Linked DNA regions of Homo sapiens. The protein of the gene in region 7 purifies or fractionates together with the protein of the main gene of each other region. This does not show direct contact. Each region holds a gene or a part of one and is shown on either strand. Other genes may lie near its edges.

The links.
Region 1: the proteins of TM9SF4 (region 7) and SACM1L purify together in Homo sapiens (affinity purification with mass spectrometry; 2 studies listed by BioGRID and IntAct, with this or other methods). This does not show direct contact.
Region 2: the proteins of TM9SF4 (region 7) and ZC3H15 purify together in Homo sapiens (affinity purification with mass spectrometry; one large-scale study listed by BioGRID and IntAct). This does not show direct contact.
Region 3: the proteins of TM9SF4 (region 7) and RNF170 purify together in Homo sapiens (affinity purification with mass spectrometry; one large-scale study listed by BioGRID and IntAct). This does not show direct contact.
Region 4: the proteins of TM9SF4 (region 7) and OASL purify together in Homo sapiens (affinity purification with mass spectrometry; one large-scale study listed by BioGRID and IntAct). This does not show direct contact.
Region 5: the proteins of TM9SF4 (region 7) and CALD1 purify together in Homo sapiens (affinity purification with mass spectrometry; one large-scale study listed by BioGRID and IntAct). This does not show direct contact.
Region 6: the proteins of TM9SF4 (region 7) and RTN3 purify together in Homo sapiens (affinity purification with mass spectrometry, with the first as the bait; one large-scale study listed by BioGRID). This does not show direct contact.

The regions. Positions count from the first base shown.
Region 1 is NC_000003.12:45,737,896-45,741,395, reverse strand, and holds part of SACM1L (phosphatidylinositol-3-phosphatase SAC1), read right to left. Parts: intron 2,819-3,500; coding exon 2,725-2,818; intron 2,616-2,724; coding exon 2,523-2,615; intron 1,810-2,522; coding exon 1,752-1,809; intron 1-1,751.
Region 2 is NC_000002.12:186,489,260-186,492,759, reverse strand, and holds part of ZC3H15 (zinc finger CCCH domain-containing protein 15), read right to left. Parts: intron 1-3,500. UniProt on the Homo sapiens protein: Protects DRG1 from proteolytic degradation. Stimulates DRG1 GTPase activity likely by increasing the affinity for the potassium ions.
Region 3 is NC_000008.11:42,886,606-42,890,105, reverse strand, and holds part of RNF170 (E3 ubiquitin-protein ligase RNF170), read left to right. Parts: intron 1-691; exon of another isoform or gene 692-803; intron 804-2,234; coding exon of another isoform or gene 2,235-2,241; coding exon 2,242-2,378; intron 2,379-3,500. UniProt on the Homo sapiens protein: E3 ubiquitin-protein ligase that plays an essential role in stimulus-induced inositol 1,4,5-trisphosphate receptor type 1 (ITPR1) ubiquitination and degradation via the endoplasmic reticulum-associated degradation (ERAD) pathway.
Region 4 is NC_000012.12:121,029,247-121,032,746, forward strand, and holds part of OASL (2'-5'-oligoadenylate synthase-like protein), read right to left. Parts: intron 2,372-3,500; coding exon 2,196-2,371; intron 1-2,195.
Region 5 is NC_000007.14:134,964,634-134,967,931, reverse strand, and holds part of CALD1 (caldesmon), read right to left. Parts: intron 2,627-3,298; coding exon 2,546-2,626; intron 1-2,545. UniProt on the Homo sapiens protein: Actin- and myosin-binding protein implicated in the regulation of actomyosin interactions in smooth muscle and nonmuscle cells (could act as a bridge between myosin and actin filaments).
Region 6 is NC_000011.10:63,684,500-63,687,999, forward strand, and holds part of RTN3 (reticulon-3), read left to right. Parts: intron 1-3,500. UniProt on the Homo sapiens protein: May be involved in membrane trafficking in the early secretory pathway. Inhibits BACE1 activity and amyloid precursor protein processing. May induce caspase-8 cascade and apoptosis.
Region 7 is NC_000020.11:32,140,714-32,144,213, reverse strand, and holds part of TM9SF4 (transmembrane 9 superfamily member 4 isoform 1 precursor), read right to left. Parts: intron 2,718-3,500; coding exon 2,549-2,717; intron 2,449-2,548; coding exon 2,319-2,448; intron 1,233-2,318; coding exon 1,109-1,232; intron 1-1,108. UniProt on the Homo sapiens protein: Associates with proteins harboring glycine-rich transmembrane domains and ensures their efficient localization to the cell surface.

The DNA.
Region 1 (3,500 bases), on a different chromosome or scaffold from region 7:
ACACTGGGTATGTCAGGTACACCAAAGAGGTATACCACCTCTGAAAAATAACTCCCTATGTATTAATGAGGTTAAAAGAGGAAAGTGCTGGGAGAGAGGACCAGGAGTGCTGTGGAAATCCAGACAGAAGGTGAAGACTTCTGTGTGGGAGAGACACTCTGTGAGAGGGGAGCATATGAATGGTGCCCTGAGGATGGTGGAATTCAGACAGGCAGAGAGAGGTTGGCTCAACGAATTCAGGATAGAGGATGAAGGCTGGAAGGTGCCTCTTCTTTCAGAGTGACTAGGATTGCATCTCCAACGTCCAATACACCAAGTCTCAGACTCAAACCTCCAAATTACAGGACATTACTCAAAGGAGAATAAAGAATACATTCTTCTCACTTTAATCTTAAATGCTTTATTAACTCAGTAACATAGCAAAATATTAAGAGAAAAAAGAAAACCAGTAAAGACCTTGTCTCCTCAGGTTCTCAGGCAATTTTACTCTCAACCTTTAAAATGTAATGATAAGTAATATCTTAATCCATTAACATTTATTTGAGTTGGTTAAACTATACATCCATAAATGGAATACTTTGCAGCCATTAGCAATTAAGAACATGGGAAAACATACTGCTCAGTGAAAAAAAGCAGATAATGAAAATACGTATCTCACTTTTGAAAAAAAATCACAGACACTTATAAAGATTAAAACATCAAAATGTTAAGAGTGGTTAGCTTCTCTCTCAAAGGTATGATGATAAATAATATTTTCTCCTTTTCTGCCTACGTGTGCTTTCTATAATTACTATGTATTACTTTGGTAATGTGAAAGGAAAATAAAATCTCAGGACTCCAAATTTACTATGCCAAAGGAAAAAGTTAAACTTGGGAACTGAGTCTCACAAAACTACCCTCCTTTTGTTCCTAAGTAGACAGCTGCAAAGATAGTGGGCCACATATCCTCACAGATGGCCACCCTCACAAACTGTCACAAGCAAATTCCTTGTGGGCCCCAAAATCTTTACCCTAAAAGACAGTCCTGTTGAATCTCCCTCACCCTGACAATGTAAATTAACAGTTTATTTTCACAGGTATGGGACAAAGACAAGACTAGAAAATCATCCCTCCGCCCACCCCAAAACAAATGCAGATCTGACTTCTTTATCTACTCTATGTTTACTTTGTCTTACATAAAATGCAGATTTACTGAGCAGGAGATGAATGCATAATTGACTGTTCCTCTACCCCGTCCTTTCACATGTAACATGGATTCAGTGAGTGCTAATCAAAGCCTCACAAGAATGTGACCACTTATCTTACTACCTACCCTCCCCTTTTGTTTCCATTCCTCCTTCCTCTCCTGTACACTCTTTCCCCATTTAATACTGAAGTCCTTAAAACCCTCTTTGGAAAAAGCACAAGATACTGATCCTACTGTATCTTGTGTCTCTTTTTCCTGGGCAGGTCCTCAACCTTGGCAAATTAAGCCTCTAAACTGACTGAGACCTGTCTCAGACACTCATTGGTTTACAGTAATAAGAAAAACATGTTTTTAAAATCTGAGGTTAAAAAAAACGACAACCATCAAACTACTAGGTATGTTATTTTTCTTCCTGTCACATCTAATGACAATCTAATGTCACATCCACTTTACCCATTAAATTTAATAGGGAAACATCAAGTGTTCGGTGAACTCAAAAACTTAAGATGTTGTAAAAGAAAGGTCAACATTCTAACTAAGAAACAAATGTGTGGAGCAGACTTACCAGCCATAAGCAAACAGATAATGCACATTGAAAAGGCAACAACCATGATAATAGGCAACTGGAAAAGACAATAGAAAGAGATCATCATTTAAGAATGCTAATCAATGGCAGCAAAATCAGTTGTGCATGCATTGCTTGGGAAAAGAATAAAACTCATCTGTCAGCTAATACACAGCTAATATCTTTTGTCAACAAAACATTATTATTTATGGGTTCAATCACAACTGCCCTAGACTTTAGATGGGGGATGTGGTAAGATCGGAAGAAGCATGCTTTTGCTCCAAGCCAAAGGGTGCTAAATGGAAGGAGGATGCCCAGATGAGGACCTAGAACACTAGGCCTCCCTTCCATTCCAGAGCACTTGACACACTGGAAAGAAAATCCAGAGCGGCTCTTGCAGGGTCTGGTGAACAGAGGAGTCAAAAAGGAGAGAAGCATCAAAAATAAACTTTGCCTTCCATGTAACACGTTTGTCTCTGGCAATTCCCTCAATGTAAGAGAATTGAAGTTTTCCTGAAATGAGAAAGCTTCCACATTCCCTTTGCTTATGTTACTTCACATGAAAAGGATGTGTGAGAGTCTGAGGAAAAGAAAACAAATGCTCCACAGTTACTGTACTCCTCAGCCTGACCTCTTTGGAAAACTTAAGTATTTATATTTCATGTAATGAAATATAAAACCACATATAACGTTTTAAATTGAGACTGAAACCATCTATACCTTCAGACACAATGCTTTTAAAAACTTGAAAAATACAAAATGGTTTCTTACAGCCAGGAATTTCCAGTCCCTTGGAACACTTAAAGGACTATGAGATTCTAATTCATCCACTGAATAGTTTCCAAGAAATAAGTCTATGGAATCCTAGAACAGAAAGGAAGAAATTCGTAAACTCAGTGTGAGATAACATTAGTGATGAACAATGCAAAGATACAACCACGTAATGCCAGGAAAGCATCAAATACAAACTTACTTGTCTAAATCCATCGGAAAAGTTGTTCTTATAATATCGTATCATTGAGTTCCAGCCATCCATTATAAGTCCCAAATGAGTTCTCTTTCCAGTTCTGGTTAAAGAGGTTAAATTTTAAGTTACAGGTTTGTACACTGAATTCTCACACTGTTTTATGGCCAATAAGCATAAGGTATAGAAATAAGTGAGTGACAGATTTTAAAAACTATCCCTGAAAATACAGATACTTCACAAAAGAAATCACTTGTAGGTCCAAGAAATACCTATTTTCTTTCTAAAATATTACCAAAGGAGGCACAAAGAAACACACTAATTCCAGTTGCAAAGACAAGAAATATGAAGAGAAATACATAGCCCAGGTTAAGTGGTAGGACACAGCAAAGCAAACAGACTAGAAATCTTATTCTGCTCCCAGGGAACCCACATAGCAGAAAAAGAGCCACTGCATGCATAATACATTCAAAATGTTCTCATTAATGTCCTCATTACTCAGTGCAGTCTTTGAAAGCAGCATCAGCATCACCTGGGTGCTTTTTAGAGCACATCTCAAGACTGGTGCTTCAGGTACACGGTAAGGTCTGAGGAGCACTGTGGAGCGGTGGCTCTCAACCCTCCCCAAGCATCAGAATCTCCCAGGGTGGCTAAGAACACACCAGTACCCGGGCCTCACTTCCCAGAAATCCTGACTCCACAGGTCTCAAGTGAGGCCCAGATGCTGGAGTCTTGCTGTTGTTGCTGCTGCTGTCTGAAAGCTGCCCAGGTGATTTTTAAAAGCA
Region 2 (3,500 bases), on a different chromosome or scaffold from region 7:
AAAATACCACCACGTGGACAAGCTAGAAAAAGAAAACAATAGTACTGAAACAATTAGTATTTAAAAACATACAACATGACATAATGTTTACAGCAACCTCAAAATCAGTAAAAGATCTTTCAATAGTCTTAAGACAAAAAAGTACAGAGGGTTTTGCTTCTAAATGGTTATCTCTCATTGGGAAATATCTCTTTATTCATGACATCTATATCCATATACCAAAACTTTGCTTTCCTCTACTTAAATGCTTGTTTCATGATTTAACATCCCAACATGGTATTATACAAAATTCTACATGAATTTTCTACAGCCTATGTGTATGAAAAAAGGTAAGAAGCACAAACAAGCTGGATGTTTCTGCACTGAGCCTTTTACGGATGGCTTCCCTTGTTTCTATAAAGAAAGTTTAACACTCAATTCAATTTGAAGAAAGATGGTCAACATAATGTGATACATACAGATGAACACAGTGCAGCAACTAAGTATAAAATGCCATACTTTTCCTTTACAAAAAGTGAGCTCTCACGGGAGGGAGAGGAGGCTCTAGAAAAAAATATGATCAGGATTAAACAGCATCTACAGGTGCTCTGCCAGAGAAAATAAACTGCGGTTCAACCCATGCTCCATCTGTAACTACAGAGAAGAAACAATGAATAAATAAGGCCAAATAGCAAAGCAGATACTGCCAGATAGACTTAGGAAAGAAAAATGTCCCCTAAGGGGACCTGGCCAGTAAGAAAAGAAAGCACTCACAATGGCAGTTTCTGGTAAAGGTGTATAAACTCCCGATCCCAGAAGAAGAAAAAAAAAATCAGGTTTCATTACACTGCTCTGGCACATAAATAACCAGTTTAAAGAGATAATAAGTGAGTTGTGTTCACCTCTAAGTTAGAGCTCAGAAATTAACATTTTTCCACAGAGAAAGGGGACACTTATTTATCTAGTATTCACTAAACATAAACATAACCCCTGAATATATACTTTATTGAATCCTCTCAACAATTCTATGATACACAGAAACTCAGAAATGATAAATTCATTTGAAGTTAAGTCATTAATAAGGGGCTGGCTGTATAGTGCAAGCATTTAGAAGCATAAACTCTGGAGCCAGACTGCCCAAATTTTAATCCCAAACAGAGCTGGGTAAATTACCCTCTTTGCCACAGTTTCTTATTTGTAAAGTGAGTCTCACTTAGGGTTGTTGTGAAAGTTAAAAGATTTACCTCAGAGAGACAGTGGTGGACAGCAAGGACTCTAGAGGCAGACTTCCTGTGTTAGAATCCCTGGCACAGTTACTTGCCAGGTTAGTAAACTTGGGCAAGTTATTTAATATCTATGCCTGTTTTCAAAACTGCAAAAAGGGTAATAATACATATCCCACTGAGAGAATCAAAGGAGCTAGTATATTTATCACTTGTAGTTGGCTTGTCTCTCTTCTCTCCTTCTCCCCAAAACACTGAGAACCTTGTCTGGGCCAGTAAATGTTAACTATTAAGTGACAGATGATATTTGAACCTAGGTATATTTGACTCCAAGCAAATTCCTTCTACAGTTTTTAATAAACTACTTCCCAGAGAAACCTCATTAAGTTATTGGGCTGGTTGGTGCGCAATAACCTTTCTAAATATCACACTGCAGATCTGAGATACCAATAGCACCTCTTGAAAACAGAATGATTTGCAATTTGGAGAAGTTCAAAAAGGCTTCTTCCTGAGTTTAGGACAGAGCCCTACCTAAAGATTAACCTGAATTACAAGGTAGAAAAAAAGGAGGTTACAGTCAACCCCAAACCACAGTTAAAATAAAACTAGGAGAATAATGGTCCTCATTGGATTAATAAGGTCCCAAAAGTTAACATGATAGTAAAGGAACTGCGTGTTTATGTGTGTTTCAGAAGACAACTTGGGACATGAATACAGAGGAGTCTCGAAAGAAAAGGATGACTTCCTGAGGCTCCAAGAGCCTTAACACTCAGTAAATTCCAGGCTTCACTTAAAACTTCCCTCCCATCCGTACGTAATCCCATTCCTTTTACGGGCCAGCCTCCACTGCTTAAATAAGATGTTTGGAAAAAGGGAAGCAGCGGAAGGGCAGGTCAACACTGAATAGTGCTCCAAGATAATGGAGTCTACCCTCTTGGGACATTCGGGTAGGCAGAAGCTGTCACGGTTTTCCCTCATTAGTTTTCTCCCAAATGCACTAATGTATTCTTGTTGTCCATCCATGCAATATATATTATGCAACTGGTTAATCCAGCTTCAAGTAATCAACATTTGATTTTGGCTATTGGTAGCTGTTCTACACTGGCAACCAATTTCTCTTGCTCCATCTTTCACGACACCTGGATCCTGTCTCTATAGGTCCCTATTACTATTTCCTTGCTGATACAAGTTCTTAGCTGGGTATCTTTTATTTGCTTGCCCTAAGTCCAAGATTATTTCCTTCTTTCCATATTCAAACTTTCTATTGCTCAATACTGACTCCATTTGTCACTAAATTTTAGTTGTAAGAAAGCAAATGGTATATGCCATTTCAGACTAATGTGTTAATTTCTAACAGAACCATAATCCTGTTTGACATATTCATTTCGGAAAGTATTAATACAAATGAATTCATAAAGTTTTGGGGCATTTGAAGAGGCAAATAAAAAAAATGGAGGCAATATTAAAAAATGGAGGCAATATTAAAAAATGGGCAGGAACTAAGCACTGTATAGACTGTGCAGATCAGTCTGATGTCCCCTAGTTTTTATTTATAATACACTATCAAAATAGGCAATAACAATAGCTGCCATTTACTGAATATATACACCATATGGCAGGCACTTTACATGTATTATCTCATTTAACTCACGGGAACTAGCTGCATTTTGCAGATGAGAATTGCATTCCAGCTAGATTTTGTAACTTGTCTAAAACTATAGAGCTAGTAATTTGAAACATGGGACTCAAACCCAGGTCTCTGACTCCAAAGCTAGTGTTCCTTTCATTAATTTATGCTATCTGATGTCTCTTTTACTTCCTTAGAGTTCCCAAAACCTGCATGTTGATTTTTCCACAGTGAAGGTCCATAGAGGTGGCAGCAGAACAGGTACAGAAGAGGAAAGAGGTAGGTAGGACAACCATTATTTTCAAGTCTATTGAAACGTGCTGCTTAAAAATACATGTTTTAGTTAACTATTAATTTTGAGCAATTTAGAATTTCAGGTCATACAGCTATAAAACCTCCCAAAGTTAACCAGATTCTGAAATAAGTATCAGTCTTTATATGTCAAAATAGACTATAAAAAAGTAGTATTTCCCCCTCCAAAATTATAACAGTCACAGAGATCAATTATCTTCTTGGAATAGTCACTGAGACGTGCTAGGCTTTTAGGGAAGTTTAAAAAAAAAGTTGCCTATATAATGAAGCAGACTATATCATTTCCTAACCAGGCTGAATAACAGAATAGTCTCTATAAATCTAATTTCACAAATGCTGTAACTTAACACTACAATTCA
Region 3 (3,500 bases), on a different chromosome or scaffold from region 7:
ATGTATAGCATAGAGGAAAATGTGAGTAGGAATAATTACAATGCATTTGTTGATAGACTTAACTTACAAAGCACTTTCACCTCTGTTCATTTGTTTTAACCTTCACAGCTCTGTGAGGTAATTAGAGGTTGGAAATCTTGACACAGGGGATAACATTTGGGTTATCTTTGAGCAGATGCAAGTAGTTCTCAGTGCCCTTAGGACTTTTGAAACAGCTACAGCACCTCTAATTTTAAGAGAGGAAACCTGATGAAATAAAAACCTAAATTGACTCCGTGGCCCACCCCTAGCTTATTTGAGGCTCTTCAGTTCAGTTGGCAGCTCATTTAACTGTTCTTTTGAATGAAAATACTGCAATTAGAGCTGTTTCTGTGAGTTTCCTGGTGTGCACCTTCGTAATAGTTACTTGAAACCAGTCATTAAAAGTTCCATATATCAGGCGATTAGTCCGTGTAAAGCTGATGAAAGCTGCCTTTCATCTGTTTGCGTAGGTTTCTTCCATGAGTGGTAATTTTCTTGCAGCCAGTTCAGATGATTTTCAAAGGTATTAAGACGTCTATACTCAAAATACCTGATTAGTGATGATATTGAATAAAACTTTTTTCAGCTCAATAAGTTACATAAATGCAGAACTTTATTTTAATTATTCATATATATTTAATTGAATATATATTCCTTAATTTCTCTTTAGGTGTCTTATAAGACTTTGACACTTCCTGTTTTGTCTGAAAAAAATGTGAATTACCTGTGATATTTGGACTCCAGTGTGGCTGGGCTATCTCCCCTCATACCTATAGAATTAGGTACTACCATTTTTCTCTAGTTTAGAGTGTAGGAAGGAAAGTTTCTTATCCTCCCTTTTCTCTTCATAAGGAAATGCAGCATCAGAGTGATTCTATATTCCAAGCAGTTCAAAGAATTCTGAACCATAAGCTGAGCTTAGTTTCAGGTGGACAAATAGTTTTTCAAGCACCAGAATTTTCATTATTTCAAGTAGTTTTAGTATAGCTATAAATGTTCTATAGCCTAAATGTCTTTTACTTTTCAAATTACAACACTGTAAGTATGGTAAGTCACTTTTATTTAAACAGATATCTATTAGGTCCTATTGTGTACAAGGCATATGCTAGAGAATATGAGAATGCTTACAGAAAACTATAATATATTTCCTTTCCTATCAATACATGGGAAATGCCACAAGATATACACATGCTGTGAGGGGGAAAAGGGATCTGATCTATTTAGAGAACTTATTTGGTATTCAGGAATAAGAAGAGAGCAGTTGGATAAGAATGGCTTTTATTTATTTATTGTTTTTGGTTGGGGGGTGGGGAGGTTGGGGGGCGGGGGACAGGGTCTTGCTCTGTCTCCCAGGCTGGAGTACAGTGGCGCTCTCTGGGCCTCACTACAACCTCTGCCTCCCAGGTTCAAGCGATTCTCCTGCCTTAGCCTCCAGAGTAGCTGACATTACAGGCACACGTCACCCGGCTAAATTTTGTATTTTTAGTAGAGACGGGGTTTCACCATGTTGACCAGGCTGGTCTCGAACTTCTGACCTCAGGTGATCCGCCTGCCTCAGCCTCCCATAATGCTGGGATTACAGGCGTGAGCCACTGCATCTGGCCCAAGAATGGCTTTTTTTTTTTAAAGGGGTTAAGCTTGAAGAGGAAAAAACATTTTTAAAAAATACATAAATAAATGATAAATTATAGTAATTGTTTTCCTTAAAAGAAATAGAATTTGGCTGGGTGCAGTGGCTCATGCCTGTAATCCCGGCACTTTGGGAGGCCGAGGCAGGTGGATCACGAGGTCAGGAGATCAAGACCATCCTGGCTAACACGGTGAAACCCTGTCTCTACTAAAATACAAAAAATTAGCCAGGCGTAGTGGTGCGCGCCTGTAGTCCCAGCTACTTGGGAGGCTGAGGGAGGGGAATTGCTTGAACCCGGGAGGCGGACGTTGCAGTGAGCTGAGATCCGCATCACTGCACTCCAGCCTGGCAACAGAGCAAGAGACTCCATCCAAAAAAAATAGAAATAGAATTTTGTTCTCCACAAAATAATGTGTCTGGCAAATTTTAAAGAACTCCATCAGTCCCCACTGGAGTTGTACTTAATTGCAGCCTATCAGAAACCAAATATATTAGAAGTCAGTTATATTTACATTGCTTTTATTAGTATATTTCATTTTCACTGTGTCATTTGTAACTCTCATCTTGTTTCTTCTTATTTTAGACCTGGAATGGCCAAATATCAAGGTGAAGTTCAAAGTTTGAAACTGGATGATGATTCAGTTATAGAAGGAGTAAGCGACCAAGTACTTGTGGCAGTTGTGGTCAGTTTCGCTTTGATTGCTACCCTGGTATATGCACTTTTCAGGTGAGATTTAAGGACAAAAGAATTGAGTAGATTTGCAAGGGCTGCTGACTTTTTGACCCCTAATAATGTATAATACTTAATATGAACAGCAAGTAACAGATCTCAGTGATTGTAGATGTTTACTAAGGTATTTTATTTTCCACGGGGCTTTGAATGCTAACATATATTTCCTGTCATCAGCTGTCTTACCAAATAATAATTAAATTTATCATCCACATTTTGAATAAAATATTAGTACTTTCTATTGGCGTATGGCAATTTAAAAAACTTTAATTTCCATAATTAAATCCATCAACTTGTAGGTGATATAGATGATAAGTGCAAAATACTTTCAGTTTTAAATGGAAAAATTGAGGCAAAAAAAGACTTGTATAGTAAAAAGGGAACTAATATTAGAATTAATTTTTTTACTTATTTATTTATTTATTTATTTTTTGAGACGGAGTCTCAATGTGTCGTCCAGGCTGGAGTGCCATGGCACTGTCTCAGCTCACCACAACCTCTGCCTCTGGGGTTCAAGCGATTCTCCTGCCTCAGCCTCCCAAATAGCTGGGATTACAGGCACATGCCACCATGCCCGGCTTATTTTATATTTTTAGTAGAGATGGGGTTTCTCCATGTTGATCAGGCTGGTCTCAAACTCCTGACCTGAGGTGATCCACCTGCGTCAGCCTCCCAAAGTGCTGGGATTACAGGCTTGAGCCACTGCACCTGGCCCTAATTTTTTGTATTTTTTTGTAGAGACAGGATTTCGCTAGGTTGGCCAGGCTGGTCTCAAACTCCTGACCTCAAGTGAACCACCCGACTCAGCCTCCCAAAGTGCTGGGATTACACTCATGAGCCACTATGCCCAGCCTATTTATTTATTTTAGAGACAGGGTCTCGCTACATTGCCCCAGTTGGACTTGAACTCCTGGACTCAAGCAGTCCTCCCATCCCAGCTTCCCAGGTTGCTGGGACTACAGGTATGCACCACTGCACCTGATTCTAAAATTAATTTAGGCTGGATGTGGTGGCTCACGCCGGTAATCCCAGCACCTTGGGAGGCTGAGGCAGGCGGATCACCTGAGGTCAGGAGTTCGAGACTAGCCTGGCCAACATGGTGAAACCCTCGTCTCTACT
Region 4 (3,500 bases), on a different chromosome or scaffold from region 7:
TAACACTTTGGCCTTGAAACAAACACAGAATCATCTTGTATAATTCTCATCTCCCAAATAAATGAAACCTTGGGCCTTTCCTATAGGTCACTGACTTACTAACAAAAAAACTTTATCCTTGACCTTAGAAATTCAATTTTGAATTAAAATGTATTTATAAGGCTGGGCTCAGTGGCTCACGCCTGTAATCCCAGCACTTTGGGAGGCCAAGGCAGGTGGATCACAAGGTCAGGAGATCGAGACCATCCTGGCTAACACGGTGAAACCCCGTCTCTACTAAAAATATAAAAAATTAGCTGTGCATGGTGGCGGGCACCTGTAGTCCCAGCTACTCGGGAGGTTGAGGCAGGAGAATGGCATGAACCCGGGAGGCGGAGCTTGCAGTGAGCTGAGATTGCGCCACTGCATTCCAGCCTGGGCGACAGAGCAAGACTCTGTCTCAAAAAAAAAAAAATTATAAGTTAATTAATTTGTTTTGTAACTTTTTGCAAATTCATCCTTAACACTCAATTTTGTAAACCATAACTAATAACATTATAATTTTGTTAGAAATTTAAACTCATGGTAATATAACTTATTTTCTTCAATATTAGTGAAATGTTACATTCTTAAAACTTAGATGATATATAAAATGTAGGATGCCTGTAATCTGTAAGATGTAAGCCTTAGTGAATAGATAAAAAAAATACCCAGCTCAACTTACTTCACCTCCGGGGCTCAAGTGATCCTTCCTCCTCAGCCTCCTGAGCAGCTGAGACTACAGGAACCCATCACCACCCCCAGCTAATTTTTGTATTTTTGTATTTTTTGTAGAGACGGGGTTTCACTATGTTGCTCAGGCTGGTCTTGAACCCTTGGGCTCAAGTGATCCTCCTACCTCAGCCTCCTAAAGTGCTGAAATTACAGGCGTGAGCTACCACATTTGGCCGGTAATTGTTTTTTCTTTAAATCCCTGTTATATTTTATTTTATTTTTTGAGACAGAGTCTTGCTCTCTTGCCCAGGCTGGAGTACAGTGGCGCGATCTCGGCTCACTGCAAGCTCCGCCTCCTGGGTTCACACCATTCTCCTGCCTCAGCCTCCCGAGTAGCTGGGACTACAGGCGCCCGCCACCACGCCTGGCTATTTTTTTGTATTTTTAGTAGAGATGGGGTTTCACTGTGTTAGCCAGGATGGTCTCGATCTCCTGATCTCATGATCTGCCCACCTCGGCCTCCCAAAATGCTGGGATTACAGGCGTGAGCCATCATGCCCAGCCTATTTTATTTTTATTGGATCAAATCTTTCCTTCTGCTGTCTGATTCCCTTGTAACTTCTCTGCAAGTTCTATATAATAAATGATTTTTGTCTCTGAGTTCTGTTTTGCAGTTGGAGTTTCCGTTATCTCGGAGGAAGATTTTGTTTCCAAAACTGACTGAGCTGCTGCCTGAGAAATGTCCCTGAGGGCTGTTTACACTCACACATGCCCTCTTTTCGACTCCTGGGGTGGAATTAAAGAAATCCTTCCCCTTGTTAGTCCTTAACCTGCTGTGACGAATGGCCACAGTACCCGGCGAAGCTGACATCTGCCAGGCCTAGACTGTAATTGAAGGGTAACAAGAACATGTGGGGTGGGTGTGGTGGCTCGTGCCTGTAATCCCAGCACTTTGGGAGGCCAAGGTGGGAGGATCGCTTGAGACCACTTCGAAACCAGGCTGGTCAACATAGTGAGACCCTGTCTCTACAAAAGAAAAATAAAAAAAATTAGCTGGGCATGGTTGTGCATGCCTGTAGTCCCAGTTACTTAGGAGGCTAAGGTGGGAGGATCACTTGAGCCAGGGAGGTCTTGATCCAGGGAGGTGGAGGCTACAGTGAGTGGTGATTGCACCACCGCACTACAGCCTGGGCAACAAAGCAAGATCCTGTCTCAAAAAAAAATAATAAAATAAAATAAAAATAACTAGTTTACTGAAATACTGTAGAGCACCTATTTTTCTCCTTCCTTCTCTGTTTCTTTCTCCTCTTCCTCCTCCTCTCCTCCTTTTCCACCTTCTTCACTGACGGTTTCACTTTACATTTCAAAAGACTAGCATTCTCTCCCTCTCTACCTGCTTCCATTTCCCCTGGCTGCAGCTTCCTGAGATGAAAATCAGGCCCTGCCTTTCCTCCTCACCCTCTTCCCTCTCCTTGCCCCTGCCATCCTGGCAGCCCCCTCACCTGCTGGTACCAGTGTTTCACCAGGCGCAGGAGGCTCTTCAGCTTAGTTGGCCGATGTTTCACGAAATTTCTCTGCAGCTCGCTGAAGGATGGGCAGAAATTTCCAGGACCACCGCAGGCCTTGATCAGGCTCACATAGACCTCAGGGGGTGGCTGGGAGTTGGGAAGAGAAGGCCCTGAGGAGTGAAGGAGCAAAGGAAGAGATTGGGGATTGAGGAAGCCAGAGGGTGGTAAGTAGTATTTTGGGGAGAGCCTGCCTTTACATTGGAAGTATCCCTCCAGGGACACTTGAGACCTCATATCTTCAGAAACCAAAGGTTTGCCTTGTCTAATTGTCCTTTTTGTGAAATTCTTACTCTGGAGAACCAACATTGGGCTTTCCATGCATCAGACCCCTCCCTGGATGTCCTCAATGTCCCTCATTTTCTTTAATATCTGTTTTGTATCTCTTTCAATACTCATAGGGAGGCCGGGTGTGGTGGCTTAAGCCTGTAATCCCAGCACTTTGGGAGGCCGAGGTGGGCGGATCACCTGAGGTTAGGAGTTTGAAATCAGCCTGGCCAACATGGTGAAATCCTATCTCTACTAAAAATAGAAAAATTAGCCAGGCATGGCATGGTGGCGGGCTGTAATCCCAGCTACTCGGGAGGCTGAGGCTGGAGAATCACTTGAACCCTGGAGGTGGAGGTTGCAGTGAGCCGAGATCACGGCACTGCACTCCAGCCTGGGCGACAGAGCGAGACTCCGTCTCAAAAAATATATATATATATAAACTCATAGGGAGAACCAGGAACCAGTTCCATGGTACACATCACTGAGACATCCCAGCACTCTCTTCCTTGCTAAAATCAGATCCTGTCTCTTATACCTTCTCCAAAGAGCAACTCCACGCAGCCAGCCACTACAGCTGATAGGAGTTAGCACATGAGATGAAACCTCTAGGATCTGGGCTTGCAGCATGTAGGTTTTACTTCAAACACCTAGGACTCTGCCCGAGGACAAACAACAGGGGCCAGTGAGTTAGTGCTCCCAAAGCAGCCCCCAACCAGTGACGGCTGGGAAGCTGGTGAGTAAGCACGCCAGCGTCCCACTTGGGATCCCGAAGAGGTTCGCTCCATAATGGGACTGTGAGTTCTCCCAGGACATGAAGCTCAGGGTGGTGACTTGCCCATGGACGCACGTTGTATTGAATTCTTGCCTTTCCCATCTCAGTTCCATACTTCCCTACCGGTGTTTCCTGGGAGGAATACCCAAATAAACTGCGTATCCTCACATCCATGTCTTAGGATCTGCTTCTATAAAATG
Region 5 (3,298 bases), on a different chromosome or scaffold from region 7:
CCTCCAGTGATCTGCCTGCCTCGGCCTCCCAAAGTGTTGGAATTACAGGTGTGAGCCACTGCGCCTGGCTGGATCTTATTTTATTTTAGCCTTCCTTCTGCTGATTTTTTTCACTTCCCTCTTCCTGTCTTTCTCCTTGATGTTCTCTTTTCCTGTCTTAACTTTTGGCCTTGCTTATAGCATTTAGAGTCAAGTAAGTTGCTTTGTTTTTTTCATTTTTAAGCCCCACTGTAAGAGCCAAAAATCTACAGTGTGTATTCCAGAACAGGCACATGCGACTGAATAGCTCAGTGAGGGCCACATCAATGTATGATGGTGAAGGAGGATGTTTATCTTTAGTTTTCTCCCATTTTTAATCTAGCAATCTCTATTTTCTCCCTCCTATTCTTACACCCCTACCCCACGAGACTTATCTGACCTATAGTCCTATTCTTACACCATTCTCTCCCCCTCAGCTAGTTGCTAAAAATTTTTGCCAAGCTATTAAGAAATCTTAAAGTGTTGTGAATTCCAATTTTCAAGGGTGTTCATTGTATTCATTTCTAAGGAATGACTGAGTAACAAGAAATGAGTTTGACAGTTTGGAGCAAAAGAGGTACCTAATCTGCTACCTCATAAACTCAGTTCTCGGTCTGGTGGTTATATTATTACTACTGTAGAAAGAAGTTAGTGGCACATGAAAACTCACACTGTCACCCTCCTACCTTGTACTGCCCTGGTGCTACATAACTCCAGGGAGTACCATTCATGTTTGTATGTGAGTGGTGTTCTCTGAGTCTGACCATTCCACATCATCTTTGTTCCACTTTCCAGAGCTCTGGCTAGGAGGAATGTTATCCAGAGAGACTCCGTTATACTGGTGATGATGGTCTATGGCCAGCTGACATCTGCTTTTCAGACAGGAACCTATATAAACACTGGGACTGCCATTCTGAGAAGTCAGATACCTCTCAGAGGTCTGAGAGGAGAGCCTTCTGCTGTCAATGTTCCTCCCACAGTGGTGTGTGGAGAATGTCTTCCTGGGAACCATTCCATGGGTTTGGGCTATTTACATTGCATGGCTGACAAACCTGCAATGCGCTAATAGCATAGGCTAGAGAGGTCATAAAAGCTTAGGTCAACAAGCTCATTCTTTGTTTAAAAAATAACAAAGAAAGTTCTTTTCTCCCCTGCCACCGAGAGAAAATTATACAAGGAATTGAATAACTATACATTTTCTCCTGAATATGCATCCTAAAAGAAAGTACCATGTATAATGGTTAAAAATGCAGGCTCGGATCAGGTGCTGGAGTATCAATGCAGGCTATGCTACTTATTCACTGTGTGACTTTGGGAAAGTTACTTCATCTCTCAATGCCTCATTTTTCTCAGCTGCAAAATGAGAATGATAAACTACTTACCTCACATGGTGACTGGAGGATCAAATGAAATAATGGAGGGTAAGAAGGTAGAATAGTGTCTGGCATATAGTGGGGTGCTCACTTGTAGCGCTAGTAGTTAGCAATGTGATAATTACCAGCAGGTACTTTTCATATGTTTAGCAATGACTTAGAAAGGCTAGTGGATTTTAATGGAATAAAAGCGCAATACGTAGCTAATAGTGAAGGTGGGGTAATATGTTTAGGTAGCTGCACCAGAACTAAGAGCATGAGAAAGTGGGAAAGGGAAGGTAATTCTCTCACTGCAGTGAATTGTAGTGATTCTCTAGTTGCCGTTGATGTGCTCTTTAGTCCTGAGTTTGCTTACGAAGTGCTTCTGTTTAAATCAACCCATAAGCAGCCTGTTCTAACCTTGCTTATTGTTGGTCTCCAGTTTCTCCCTTTTTAATTTTCTTTTTATTGAAGGAGAACACGAGGTCTATTACTTGAAATGGGGAAAGGCTACAGTTGGGAGTTGAATGAGCTCATTGTACCACAAAGGGTCCCATTTGCAGTGTAAGCATCATTTAGATGTTCTTCAGAGCCTCCTTTCTGAAGAATGACCATATCCTTTGACCAGAAGACTAAAAGTAAGAGGAACCCAATCATTCTTAATCATTCATTTTCACAGGGTGGTAAATGGTTGCCTTACTTTTGAATATTTTTTTTTTTTTTTTTGGCCATAGCAACCCTGAGTCTTAGGCTGCTGGCAGTGGCAATGTAATCTAAAATGGTTCCAGAAAGCAGTTTTGGAAACACTCAGGGAGACAGATGTTTTCCCCAAGTGATTTTTAAATGACTGTGGCACTAAGCTGGGACCTTGTAAGGAAACGTAGACCATGGTATCCCATACGGCCTTCTGCTGCCAATGTTCCTACCACTGTGGTGTATTGAGAATGTCCTACTGAGAACCATTCCATGGATTTGGGCCGTTTATGTTGTATGACTGACAAACTTGCAATGCGCTTTTCATTTCACTGTGTTATGTACTGGTCTTTTAGACACTGATGGGTGTGCAGGCAAAGATCTGTAGGTCAGTGATATTTCTCATCTGACTCCAGGACATTATACTACACCATACATCAGGAAAACAAACCTCTGAAATACTAGTCTTCCCAATAGATTACCTTAGTGGGGGAAGTGACCTTATCCACAGATTGCTTTTCCCAGAGGTTCCGCTTGCTGGATACGTCTCCTGGTCTCAAGTCCTGATAAAAAGGAAGCAGAAAAACATCGATAGGTGGCCATTTATATTTTCTAGCCAGCTCTAAATAAATGGCCACATCTATTGTTTATTTGAATCAGTTTGTTGTTTAATACACTTTACCCCAGTGATCTGAAATGGAATTGAAAGGACCATCAGCTGTTGTTTGATTTTTTTATTTTTTTATTTTTTTTGAGACAGAGTCTCACTCTGTAGCCCAAGCTGGAGTGTAGTGGCGTGATCTTGGCTCACTGCGACCTCCATCTACTGATTTCAAGTGATTCTCCTGTCTCAGCCTCTCGAGTAGCTGGGATTACAGGCGTGTGCCACCATGCCTGGCTAATTTTTTTGTATGTGTAGTAGAGATGGGGTTAGCTGTTGTTTGATTTTATATAGACCGTGACATGTCTTATGATATGAGAATGGGCTGGAACTATAGCCTCGGGGTCCTTGCCCTTTCCTAAGGACTTACTGTTTATTGATCAGTAAAAGTGAAACAGGAGCATGTTTAAAATAATGTAGCCTCATTTTAAATTTCTGCACTCTTACAAGTCAATAGATCATGGGTTATTTAAAAATGATTAATTTGGGGTTTGATAAGCATTTCCTGCCTCACAGATGAACTCAATTTGTACTCACCTCTTTCCCCCCAGCCCTTACTACTTTAGTGCACACC
Region 6 (3,500 bases), on a different chromosome or scaffold from region 7:
CCAGGCTGGTCTCAAACTCCTGGCCTCATGTGATCTGCCCTCCTCGGCCTCCCAAAGTGCTGGGATTACAGATGGGAGCCACTGTGACCAGCTTTACCCATTATTTCTTAGTAAAATTTTATTACAGAATTTGTATTTCTTAGATGTGCTGTAGACACGTATCACTATTAGCACTTAAAACAGTGATATATAGTAGTACTTGGTAAGTATTTGTTGAATAAATTATCAAATTTACGAGCTAGAAAGGCACACTTGAGAAATAAACTAAAGAGAAACTCTTTTTGGAGTCTCGCTCTGTAGCCCAGGCTGGAGTGCAGTGGTGTGATCTTGGCTCACTGCAACCTCTGTCTCCTGGGCTCAAACCATTCTCCCACCTTAGCCTCCTGAGTAGGTGGGATTACAGACATGCACCACCACGCCCAGATAATTTTTGTACTTTTACTAGATATGGGGTTTTGCCATGTTGGCCAGGCTGGTCTTGAACTCCTGACCTCAAGTGATCCGCCCACCTCGGCCTCCCAAGGTGTTGGGATTACAGGCATGAGCCACTGAGCCCAGCCAAGAGACTCTTATCTTAAATGCTTATCCATTGCAAATGTGCATTCATATTGTCTAAAAAGCACTAATACAGTTTTGGTGGGCCCAATGCAAGATCCTCATTTGTTGGGTCACTACTTGAACATAAAAGTTTACCTTAAGATACTGCAGTGTGGGGCCAGGCACGCTTGCTCACTCCTGTAATCCCAACACTTTGGGAGGCTGAGGTGGTTGGATCACCTGAGGTCAGGAGTTAGAGACCAGCCTGAACAACATGGTGGAACCCTGTCTCTACTAAAAAATACAAAAATTAGCCGGGCACAGTGACGGGCACCTGTAGTCTCAGCTACTCGGGAGGCTGAGACAGGAAAATCACTTGAACCCAGGAGGCGGGAGTTGCAGTGAGCTGAGATCACACCATGGCACTCCAGCCTAGGCGACACAGCAAGACTCCATCTCAAAAAAAAAAAAAAGTTACTGCAATGTGTTGTAATCATTTTTATTGCAGAAGCCTTTCCTCCTTGCTGGATGTTTTTCTTCATGTCACAAAGGAAGTGTCTCAGGCTTTTGCACCATGAAAATAAGATGAAGTTTGTTATTCCAAAATTTAACTTATTTAAAATGTAGATGCTAAAAAATTACCTTAATTGTTTAAAAAAAAAATCTGTACGTATTGCTGTCATCCTCCAGCTTCATGTTCTTTCACCAAGCTCCTCTTGGTTTTGGAGACTTGTCTTGATTTTAGTTAAAGAAAAATAAGTGATTGGTTGGTGTCCTACAGAAAACAATTTTGTCTTGACTGACCTGTCCAGTAATTAATTTTAGAAGTATTAGTTACTATATACAGGTCAAGAATGAGTGATGGCACTCTGTACTTTAGTGCCTTAGGTTCTAATGCAGCCAGCAATGTAGTATGCTTAGAGATGGGGATCAGGGGTCAGGATGGCTTCCCAGATTTCTGCCTTTGAAGGAAACTGAAGATATCAGAGGCAAAAATTTGAGGTTGAGGTAAAAGAGACTGAAATATTCAGTGTTCATTTCAGAGCAAGAGTTGCCTTTATTAGGCCTCAAGTATAGAGACACGTCTATCATCTGAACTTTAAAAGTACTTTAATAGTTTACTGATGACACGATGTTGAAATTCTGTAACTTGGCCGGGCACGGTGGCTCACGCCTGTAATCCTAGCACTTTGGGAGGCCGAGGCAGGCGGATCACGAGGTCAGGAGATCGAGATCATCCTGGCTAACATGGTGAAACCCTGTCTCTACTAAAAATACAAAAAATTAGCCGGGCGTGGTGGCGGGGCGCCTGTAGTCCCAGCTACTCGGGAGGCTGAGGCAGGAGAATGGCGTGAACCCAGGAGGCGGAGCTTGCAGTGAGCCTAGATTGCACCACTGCACTCCGGCCTGGGGGACAGAGCGAGACTCCGTCTCAAAAAAAAAAAAAAAAAAAAGAACAAATTCTATACTTGCTAGAGACTGCTTTTTATTGTTGTTATGAAAGTTGGCTGAGTCTGGTGGCTCACACCTGTAATCCCAGCACTTTGGGAGGCTGAGGTGGGTGGCTTGCTTGAGCTCACGAGTTTGAGACCAGCCTGGACAATAGTGGTGAAACCCCATCTCTACAAAAAGACAAAAAAGCAAGAATTAGCTGAGCATGGTGATGTGCGCCTGTGGTCCCAGCCACTTAGGAGACTGAGGTAGGAGGATGGCTTGAGCTGGGGGCAGAGGTTGCAGTGAGCTGAGATTGTGCCATTGCACTCCAGCCTGGGTGACTGAGCCAGAACTTGTCTTAAAAAAAAGAAAAGAAAAGGAAAAAAGAAAATCATGATGCCAAAATAAAACTACATTTTATATGTTTGTTCATGGAAATTAGCTCAAAGCAAAAACAGCTTGGGCAATTTTTTGAAAAAGGTTTTGCTTTAAATATTTCTTTCCTCACTCATGAAACTTAGTTGTTCTGTGTACTTTTTATGGCTTCATTTTCACACTTTGTTCTACCATATTAATCAAATGTGAATATGTAATTTGTGTTTTGAGTTAACCCTTAAATAAAAAGGAATGTGGCCCCCGTCCAACACTGACATCATCTGAGTGTTACATTCGTGTCAGATTATCAGTGGCAGTGTAATGTGTTAAAACACAGACTTGAGCTCCAGGAATGCCTAGATTTCAATCCTGGCCCTGTCTCTTAATAATTATGTGATCTTGTGCAAGTCCTGAGCCTCAGTTTCCTTAACTTGAAAATTGGGATAATAGTATCTATCTTGGAGTTGGTATGAAAATTAAACACAATTTGGCTGGGCACGGTGGCCCACGCCTGTAATCACAGCACTTTGGGAGGCCAAGGCGGGTGGATCATCTGAGGTCAAGAGTTCGAGACCAGCCTGGCCAACATGGTGAAACCCTGCCTCTATTAAAGATACAAAAAATTAGCTGGGTGTAATCCTGTAATCCCAGCTACTCAGGAGGCTGAGGCAGGAGAATCACTTGAACCCAGGAGGTGGAGGTTGCAGTGAGCCAAGATAGCGCCATTGCACTCCAGCCTGAGCAACAGGGTGAGACTCCATCTAAAAAAAAAAAAAAAGTGAACACATTTATAGGGCTTAACACAGTGTCTTGCCTGTAGTAAATAACTGTACCATTAATGTGAAGAAATGAAATATAGATCAACAATGTGACCTAGACACATTTGCTTTGTACCCTTAAATCCTGACCTTTATTAAATAACAATACCTAATGTTTGACATCCATTTGTAGGTTACAAACTACTTGCACATATTAATAGATACCACATAGCAGTTCAAGTACAAATGAGAAATCTGTCTTCCTCACAATCAAAGACTATTGTTATGCCTTTTTTCCCTTTCCACATGTGAGTCAGTTGTTTCAGTTTGTGGCCCTTCACATTAATGTCATAAAGCTGCCACCCGCTTCCACTGAGGTGGTCTGTTAAAGAGGTA
Region 7 (3,500 bases):
CAAGCACTTTGGGAGGCCAAGGCAGGCAGATCACGAGGTCCGGAGTTTGAGACCAGCCTGGCCAACATGGTGAAACCCCGTCTCTACTAAAAATACAAAAATTAGCCAGGTGCGGTAGTGGGCGCCTATAATCCTAGCTACTTAGGAGGCTGAGGCAGGAGAATTGCTTGAACCCAGGAGACGCAGGTTGCAGTGAGCGGAGATCGCGCCACTGCACTCCAGCCTGGGTGACAGAGCAAGACTCTGTCTTGGGGGGAAAAAAAAAGATAAAATGGTAAGAAAAGGAGACAGGGAGACTCTAAGCTTGAAGAGCCAGTGGGGGAGCAGGTGGCCTCAAAAGCGTCACACATGCAAACGTAGAACTGCGCTCGGGAAGCTCCCAGGGGAGATGTGCTATGGAGCTCTTGAAGGGCAGGATCTATGTTTGGGACTTCTGTGTCTAATTTTGTTTGAACACTAAGTTCCACAGTGGAAAAAAAAAAAAAGTCCAAATACCACCAACATGGTCAAAATCCTGGGCATGCTGCTTAATTAAAAAGCACACTGTGATGATCAAGGGCCAAGAGGTGAGGCAAAGCCGGACCAGCTCCTGTGAGGCCCATCAGGACTGTGCTGGACTCTCAAACTCCCGCACACCTGTTGACCCTGGGCAAATTTTAGTTTATGCCAATCACTCACACAGCGGGAGAGGAACGAAGAAACCTGCTGCCTACAGGCTTTGTCTGTACCCTGGCCCCTTGTTCTCAACCCAGGGTGAGCTGGCTGGTTCTTGTGAGGAGGCCCAACAAAGCCCCAACTTGCTGTTTGGTCTTGGCCAAGTCACTAGCTCCTTTTGAGCCTCTAGTTCTTCCTTTGTAATCATCACGTACCTCCTGGGGTTGCTGGGAAGGGGTAAACTAGTAAGGTGTCTAGCCCGTGACACTGCAGCTGTCAGCTGCCCCCACACCCCGTCTTCTCTAATGAGAATACCATGATCCTACCTTGGCTGGGCCCACACGCCACACCCGAGCCCATCGGCCAGCTCAGGAGGGAGAAGAGTGCGAAGACCCTGCGTGGAGAAGCCCAGGCCCATCCAGCCCTGCCCCTCCGGCCACACCTCCCCACTCACCCTCCAGCCTGATGCTCTGGGGAATCACCTCGAAGCGGACGACACGGTACGTGTGCTCCTGGTCCTCTTCCATGTCCTCCCGATGATAGTAAAGGATGAATGAGAGGTGGTTGTGCAGGTAGATCTGAAACACAGCAACAGAGAAAGCACAACAGAACATCACTTAGGGATACTCTCCAGGTATTAGGGCCCTTGCCTCACCCAGCATGCCTGGTTGTACCAACCTTCCTAAAACACTGTTCTCATCACTCCCCTACTCAGAAGCTCTTCAAGGGCTCCCTGCAGCTTATCAGACAAAAGCCCATTTCTCAAAGTCTGGCATTCAAGGCCTTCTATCATCTGACCCTGATACAACTGGGTGTAATCATCTAAGTCACATGAGTTCACCTAGACTCCCCTGTGCCCACCGCCCCATGAACCAGTCTCTACCCTGCAATCACTCCAACTAGAATGCCACCCCCAACTCCACTCAGCAAAAGCCCACCAACTTCTCATGGCCCACCTCCTCTGTGACAACCTGAGTGTAAAAGGAGCTCCCTCTGACCTCGCCTGCAATTAATGGCCAGTGAAAGGCAGCTGGGACTGGAGACTTAGAGCCTCCCACTGTCGGTTCTCTTCCCAGTTAGGACAGACGCCCTTTGGGGACAGGGGCTGCACCTCAAAACACATACTTTTGTAATTTATTCCCTAACTAATATCTTTCAGTTTAGAAAGAAAGATAAGAGAATCAGGGCTATAATCATCACATTATTAGCTGATTCTCCAGGGCTGTGCTGGGAAGGGCTCACACGAATGTGCTAATTTACCCCGCCACTGCTGCTGCATACATTTTACAGCTAAGGAACCACAGGCTCAGGGTCACTTAGACAACTAGTAACTGGGAGAGGAAGGATTCAAACCCAGGGAGCCTGCACGCTCTTGACCACTACTTAGCCCTCTCTCCTACATACTGATGAAGTTCCACGGTTTTTTTTTTTATGTTGTTTTAATCTTACAAAAATGGAACCTAACTTCCTAAGAATTGTGGCTTCACCTCCCTGTAGCACCTCCCAGGGACTTGCCCGGAGCACTCGGACCTCTGACAGACCATCATGCCCAGGGCACCTGGAGAAACTTGCTGTGGCCGAGCCCCACCTTTTCTGTGGCCCCAAGTGCTCAGGACTCGTGAGGTGTGGCTCCCGGTCCTGTGAGCACGCCAAAGACACTCTACCTTGTTGACATCTGTGAAGCCGAGCCGGTAGCCGTGTTCAAACTGCACATCTTTTTCCTTCTTCTTGTCATCGCTGTCTCGGTTGGAGTAGAGCTCCAGCCGGGTGGCCACAGGCAGGTTGTCAGCAATGCTGGAAAGTGAAGGCCCCACTCAGTCCCTCTCGACCGCCTCTCCCGTCAGTGTCCTCCCCTGTGTGAGCCTGAGGCAGCAAGGAGCACAGGGCGACTTACAGGTGGACGTAGTAGTCTTCTGTGATCCGCTCGGCCACGAGTCGGCTCTGCTCCACTGTCAGGGTCACTGGCTTGTTGGACTGGCTGCACAGAACTTCACACTTCTTCTCGCTGTTCATGAGAACCTGGAAAGGGGTGTTGACAATCCGGTCCCCTCTCAGCACCTCTCCTGCCGTAAGAGAGACAGATCAAGCTCAGAGCTTCAGCCCTGAGGTTGCTGAGGTCAGCAGAGTCACAGAGACACAGGACTGCGGGGCAAACATGGGCTTTCAAGGACTTCAGCAGTGCCTCAGCCTGGCAGCCAATGCCCTTCCCATTGCTTCACGCCCAACGGTCCCAGCTAACCTCGACCTGCCACCCTCCTCCTTTGGGCTCTAGTGCTACCAGACCCCTTAGCACTCAGCACTCATCAAGCATCACATCCTTTTTTTTTTTTTTTTTTTTTTTTTGAGATGGAGTCTCGCTCTGTCACCCAGGCTGGAGTGCAGTGGCACGATCTCAGCTCACTGTGAACTCTGCCTCCTGGGTTCAGGCCATTCTCCTGCCTCAGCCTCCCGAGTAGTTGGGACTACAGGTGCATGCCACCACGCCCGGCTAATTTTTTGTATTTTTAGTAGAGACGGGGTTTCACCCTGTTAGCCAGGATGGTCTCGATATCCTGACCTCATGATCTGCCCATCTCAGCCTCCCAAAGTGCTAGATTACAGGTGTGAGCCACCGCGCCCAGCCAAGCATCACATCCTTCTATGCCTCTGGGCCTCAGTCGCTTCCTTCTCCTAGAGTTCCCTGCCCCATGCTCCTGGCCTCCCCAGAAGCCCAGTTTCCATTTCACTCTCTCTGGGAAGCCCTCCCTAACCCCTTCAGGACAAGCCCATCACTCCCTCCCCTGACTGCCCTGTGTGAGGGCAGCATTATGCAGTGGAGGGATGACTCTGACTCTCGGCTGCCTGCC